2 separate regions of the Homo sapiens genome follow, and region 1 is reported to be linked to region 2. The links are microRNA targets in miRTarBase. Many come from high-throughput screens and were not tested one by one. Region 2 holds a microRNA gene; the other region holds the end of a gene's coding sequence.

Region 1 (3,416 bases), not on the chromosome of region 2:
ATGAGACAAACCATGCTTCTGCCACATCAACACAGGACTTTCTGGATCAAGTGACTTCTCAGAAGAAAGCTGAGGCCCAGCCTGTCCACCAAGCTTACCAAATGAGCTCCTTTGAACAGCCCTTCCGTGCTCCCTATCATGGATCAAGAGCTGGAATAGCTACTCAATTTAGCACTGCCAATGGACAGGTGAACCTTCGGGGACCAGGGACAAGTGCTGAATTTTCAGAATTTCCCTTGGTGAATGTAAATGATAATAGAGCTGGGATGACATCTTCACCTGATGCCACAACTGGCCAGACTTTTGGCTAAAAAAAAAAAAAAAGTGTAAATAATACTGGCACTTTAGAACAGATTAATCAAGAGTGGGGTTACTCTGTGTAAATGGAGTGCTGTACAGATTTAAGAGCAATGCGTAATAACAAGTTAAGCTGATATGAATAGCAAGATAATCCAATAACTGCATTTCGTTTGGTTAGTCAGCATTCTTTGAACTGCCTTACATGTTGTCACCTTTATAGAAGCAATGCATTACTTGTTTTAGATCAGAAACTTGCTATTCCACCCACACCAAGTTAAAAAGGAAAAAAAAAAGACTTTCGCACAATTGTTTCCTAACTGATAACATTGTACATTCTTAGGAGATTAGTAATTGTGTGAAATTTACTCATACTGTTTCTAAGTTTTTCAGCATAGTCATTGCACTTCAGCAGGGAATCTGAGTATACTTTACAGACAGAGTGAACTTAAAAGTTTAATGTCAAGAGATTATGGCTTAAATAAATTAGTGTGTCCTATAGGGGGAAAAAAACCAAGAAACCACCTTTTAAAAAGAATGATATGCCATATACCCTTGATTTTCATTTTGCATTATATTGACGTGTTTTTTTGAAGGAAAAAAAGTAATAAAAATCTGATAGTCTAAGACTCCACTATTTAAAAGCCTAATTACTTTAAAAATATGCATACTTTCAGAACTTTTACCAAAACACACAACTGTTGAAGCAGTCACTTCTCTATGGAAGTATGCATATTGGTGTCAGTTTCTTTGTACAGTTGTACTTAGATATTTTTTATGATTTTTCATGTGCAGGTATCAAGGTTTTGAAGTTTTAGTAAAAGAAATTCTGTAGATTACATTCCCAAGAACATAATGCTTACACAAAATGTATATTCCACGTTTTAAAGCTTAATTGTATTTTACTTTACATATACACTTCAGTTAACATAGAGCACTTAGAATCTATTTGGTATTTTTGATTTCTCAAAGTAAAAAAAAAATTAGATTTTTAGGTTTGATATGGTTGTGTCATAATCATCTCGTAATTGACAATTTTAACTTTTGGCAATAAAAGGAAATTGGGATATCTTTGGAACTGTAAAACCTGGTTTAATCTTTTTCTTTCTAGACTCTTGATAGATTGGATAATTAAACAGTATCCAGAGAAACTAAAGAAATGGGCATTTTAATTGCATATTTTATCTTGAGTTACTTTTTAATGAACACTGCTCATTACAACTTTACAAACCAAAAGTGTTTACTAATTCCAGTAACTACCATTTCTTTTTCAGCTAGATGAGTGATCGGAAAATTTTTGTTGCATTTCAAAATCTAAATAAACTACAGACTTTATCCTTATACCATGAATGTTTTTTTTTAATACTCTGTCTTAAAATAATACAGCATGGTACAATAAATAGTGCTTTTATGTATATATACACACACACACTTTTCTGAAGAATGATGGTTTGAGTTATGCGTTGGGCAGTTTTGATTTTTGGAAGTTATATTAGTTATTGACTCTTTGTTACAACTTTTTCATTTTTACATTTTAAATTTTCTGCCATCGTTGTCACAATGCACATCCTGATATAGCACCAGTGAAAATCTAAAATTAATACCCTTGGAAAATGAAAATATTCTTAATTTCCATTTTGACTCTTATACTGGCCCTATAGCTCTGCAGTCTTTGTTTCAATATAGAATATGTTATCCATTTAAATTATTTTTTCTTTTATTTAATGTTATCCCAAGACTGTTCTCATAAAGAAAGGGAAGAAATAACTATCCACCCTTAACATCCTTCATTTATTTTGAATATATTGGTGTTTTTATGATAAGGAATATAAATTATATTTAATGTGGTTTCCTGTATACTTTGGTTATTAAGTTTTGCTTGAAATAGTAGTTTTCCCGTTTGACAGCTTTCTTTGCTGCCAAAGTTTTCAAGAATTTAAGACTTCTTTGAAGTAAATATTTAAGTTCTGCCATTATTGACTCTTAAGATTGTGTGTGTTGTGTTGTGCATTACATAATTACAAAAAGGCTTCATTCAGGTGATACGTTAAAAATGGAACTGTGCTCACCCTAAATAGGCATTGGTATTTTTCTCTTTTGGTGAGAGTAGGCATTTATTTCTTGAGTTGTTTTGGAGCCTGATCAAAAATTTTGTTCATGGAGAACTTGATGCAATTTTGATACAGTGGAGAGGTTTTTTTCGGTTGTTTTAACATCACCAGCATAGTTTTTAGAATGTGACTCTTGCTGAGCATTTAGGGTGAGCTTGGGAAGGAAGGCCTTTGAAAATGGTAGTTATGCAAGCAGACTTTCAGGTGTTGCATTCCTGTTTTCAACACATTTCTTTAAATCTACATAATGGCAGACTTTTCTACCAGGTTATAAGCAGTTTTTAGATAAGTGATACTCAGCCAGCATAACTTATTGACTTACCATTTACGTATAGTCATCACTCTCTTACTGTGAAATTCCAAATGCCTACCAGAGTTACCTTGTTCTATCATAATATGACAAACATCTCAACAGTTTTGGATTTCCCCACTTTGGTTCAGAAGGTTATTTAATTTCTATCTGGGCATTAATGGAGAAAATAAGTAGCCTTGTGTGCTGCTTCAGATTGAAACATGGAGGATATGAGATATTCTTCTGCAATTCATGTTTCTCATTTCTCAAAGTGAGCACATTGTTCTATAAAAACATGCTGGTACACCCTTAAACTTTTGATCAATCTGAGTGAGGTGTGCTTTTCCTCTTGGGACCTACTCACGTTTGAAGATTGGAAACATCACGTTAGGCGAGGCAGTATCTCTTGAACATCTTCTAAAGGGTTTTTTAAAACCTTATTCTCACATATTTCATTTGTCTTGAATATTTAAGTGGCTCTTAAACGTTTTGGGTCTACATGCAAATGTGGTACTTAACAAGGTAGGAATCCATCTTCTTAGCTCTGGCTGAGGGTGCCAGCCATCGGTCAGGTCATTTTTATCTCAAGAGGCAGAAGGCAGTTATGTCAAGAATTGTGCTCAGGGCAGGATTTCGTTTCCACAGAGGAGAGACACTTGCAGAGTGCCAGCTAGGTTAGATCTTTTGCCGCTTCTTTCATTTGATTAATTTGGGTT
Region 2 (3,416 bases):
GTTGGTTCTGTACTTTGTTCTTCATCATTCTTTCTCTGTCTTCTTCTAAATCTGCCTTCTATCCCCTTCCCACATTCTGTGTCCTTACCTCCCAGTTAGTTACATTGCTGTGTTTGATTTTCCTTGACTCCGTAGCTTCATGAGTCACTCTTTCCTACTTGACTCCAATAGTGATGGTGGGACCTGAGCATCTACAAACTGGGTCTTCATGTTGCCTGTTCAATTTAAAGGAAAAAGTAACTCTCAGTCCTCCTTTTATCTCCCTCAAAACAGAGAAAGAAATGGAAATGGGTAGTATTTACAGCAAATTTAGTATATCCAGAGGAAGAGCCCCAGGAGAAAAGAGACTTGCTGCATTTCTGTAGTTTGCATAACTTTCTGAGGTTCTCAAATCTTCTTTTGCACCCTTCTCCCAGTACCCTCTCATGCTTCACCCACTCTTCTTTTTATAAGGTCCACCTGCTTTCTTGTATCAGATTTTATAATCTTTTAGAGCAAGTCGCGTTTCTTTCCTTCCCTCCCACCAACTTCCCCTTCTCCTTTTCTCCATGGTTATCAAGACCATCTGTTATCATTGGCCCCCTAGGAAGCAGGTTGGAGGAGATAGGATGAGCCAAAAATAAGAATTAAGATTAACTATTAGGAAGGATATCCACATCCCAGTATTTCAAAAATGGGAGAAAGTAGAAGAGAGTATTGCAAAAGTTGATGCCTCCTTCTTTGGACTGTGTTAAATATGATAGTCTCACGAGCATCCAGGACTCACTAATGGGAGGAGGTGGCTTGACTCTCAGAGAATCTCTTCCCAGGGATCCTGTCTTAATCTTGGGAATTTATAGAGAAGCCTAACGGGCTGAACAGGTATAATGTGTCACACAGGGTTATCAAGGCCTGGTGGATGGTGGAGATCACATCAAGGAAGCCACCTGGGAGAGCGTTTCGATGATGCTTCAGCTGGTATGTTCCAGAGAACTCCCTGTCCCATATTTGCTCTGTCCTTGTTTCATCCCACTCTGTTTTGGGCTCATGGTCTCCTAAATTCCCTGTCATGTGGTTTCATGGGAAGGAATTCAGTGACAAGAGAGGGACCCTATTTGCCCTTTACTCTTAGCATTTGAAAATACCACCCTGGTTTCCTGGGGCAGGGAGAGGGTGGAGGAGTGATCACAGGATGCTTTGCTCTTTATGGAAAGGTCATAAACAAGACTATGGGGACTGACACATAAGCAGATCTTACTCTAGGGTCACAGGGAAGGTCTGGCCCTGAAAATAACCTTACCAGAGGACTGGAGCCAGAGCCAGAAGTGGAGCTGAAATCTGCCAGTCCTCATGTGATGGAGATGAGGTGACCTGAAACCAGACCACTTAAAGGACGAAGGAACTGAGACAGCCTTTCGGAGTCTCAAAAAAATCCTAAGAGTATCCTGAGGATTTCCACAGTCCTTTATGCTACTTGCTCCATGTTGTTTTAGGCTTCTCATGTGTATCCACTGTGGGCTAGCCCACAGTGAGTGAGAGAAATACAATCATTTGCTGGTTTACTGAAAATTTGTAAATTACATTTGTATCCCCCTTTTTTCAGCTCAGTTCCCTAAAAATCCATGGGCAAAAATTTAATATGCAGTGTCTAGTGAAGGCTCTACCTAGGTGCTAAGTAATGGTGCCTGCCATAAAGTGGTCTGAGAATGAGCCAGAATTCTCCACCAGTATCCCAAAGTCATGGCTGCCCAGGAGTACATATGATATGAAAACCTAAGTATACTTACCTCTCTCAGGTAAGTATACTTTCTCTCAGGGATAGAAAGCCTTAATTTCCCAGGGACTTATAGATACCTCTCTTGGGGTATCTATAAGGCTTTCTTTACCTAGAGCTATTTTTCCTGTGAATACCTGGATATTGCAGCTTCTGCTGCTAGCACCATGGATTGCAAGGAGCTAAGGGGAAAGGATTGGCAGTACCTGGGTACAGTTAGAAATCTCAGTGCAGAGAGAGGAAAAATACTACAAAACACATTGGGATGAACTCCTAATAATAATTTGGACACAATCCAGTAATGTCAGGCCATTAGGGAGAATTTCTAAAGACTGAAGTCACTGCTTCTAAGATGTGAAAGTTGGAGATTATTTGAGAAGCCAACATACATGTATGTATTCACTTGTTCTCTTTAGGATAGTCATGGATGACAAAGCCTTCAATGAAAGGAGTTCTTAGCAGTCTTCTCAGATGTGTAGCAAAATATGGGAATGACCCTATGATGCCTCAGCCAGCATCATTTCCCTTTCCTTTGGAAGGGACAGATCACTCTTAAGGATGTCAAGGAACTTTCTAGGGAGTCACACAGTTATGTTAGGCCATCACAGCATTGGAATAGGGGATATCTCAGCATGTTGAGCCCTGTCTCTGGGGAGCTGACTTCTACCTCTTCCAAAGGGAGGCACGGTGATTGGAAGTGCCCGGTGCAAGGACTTTCGGGAACGAGAAGGACGACTCCGAGCTGCCTACAACCTGGTGAAGCGTGGGATCACCAATCTCTGTGTCATTGGGGGTGATGGCAGCCTCACTGGGGCTGACACCTTCCGTTCTGAGTGGAGTGACTTGTTGAGTGACCTCCAGAAAGCAGGTAAGAGAGTTTTCACATCAGTATTGCTTATTTGTGTCGGTACGTGCACGCGTGTACACACACACATCGCCCCCGCCCTGCTTTTACCTCCCATTGGAGAAAAATGTTACCCAGACACAAATAGGCAGTCTTTGCCCTCCTTTTTCTGGTATTGTCTACAATTCCTTTTGGCTAGAGTTTCTCTCTCTCTAGATATCTCCTCTTTAGGCATGCCAGGTGCCTCACCCAGTGGCTCCTGGTTTGCTTCTCATTGTCAGGTAAGATCACAGATGAGGAGGCTACGAAGTCCAGCTACCTGAACATTGTGGGCCTGGTTGGGTCAATTGACAATGACTTCTGTGGCACCGATATGACCATTGGCACTGACTCTGCCCTGCATCGGATCATGGAAATTGTAGATGCCATCACTACCACTGCCCAGAGGTAAGGGGACTTGGGAGGTAGGCAGTGTAAGAAGATGGCAGCTAGGACAGGCTAAAGGGCTAGAAGCTCCTGAAGACTAAAGCGTTTGAGCTATGGTGACTATAATGGCCAGTTTTCTGGGGCTAGAACACTATTTTTAACGAAAAATTATCTAGAGCACTGAAATTGCACTGTTCCCTTAATGATATATGATTTGTCTTTTGCCACTGTCTGGCCCACTGTCCAAATATGCAGCTCTGAGGTCTTTCATATCATTGGGGTAAATGGTTATTCTTCAGACTGGGCAAATCTAGGGAGCCCAGACATGAGCTACGCTTTCCAACCATATCATAGAAAGTATAGGTGCTGCTATGACCACGACAGCTCAGAGAT

What was found. The annotated mature microRNA hsa-miR-6505-5p reads UUGGAAUAGGGGAUAUCUCAGC and lies in region 2 at 2,364-2,385, shown strand. An mRNA with a match to its seed (bases 2 to 7 or 8) in the 3' UTR can be bound and repressed. Matches are read on the target gene's strand: a 7mer-m8 pairs with bases 2 to 8, a 7mer-A1 pairs with bases 2 to 7 and ends in A, and an 8mer does both.
Region 1: miRTarBase lists ZNF148 as a target of hsa-miR-6505-5p. Seed matches in the 3' UTR shown: 7mer-m8 at 557-563, 7mer-m8 at 1,171-1,177 and 7mer-A1 at 2,765-2,771.

The regions. Positions count from the first base shown.
Region 1 is chr3:125,229,236-125,232,651 of GRCh38, reverse strand. It overlaps ZNF148 (zinc finger protein 148), which reads left to right. Exons shown (of 9, transcript NM_021964.3): 9 at 1-3,416. The coding sequence ends at 311. Among named protein-coding and RNA genes, the nearest start is that of SLC12A8, 18 kb to the right of the region's middle. RefSeq lists an enhancer at 1-687 and a silencer at 621-821.
Region 2 is chr12:48,130,437-48,133,852 of GRCh38, forward strand. It overlaps MIR6505 (microRNA 6505), which reads left to right and starts at 2,361; the gene lies at 2,361-2,431. It overlaps PFKM (phosphofructokinase, muscle), which reads left to right. Exons shown (of 23, transcript NM_000289.6): 4 at 880-957; 5 at 2,432-2,621; 6 at 2,879-3,044.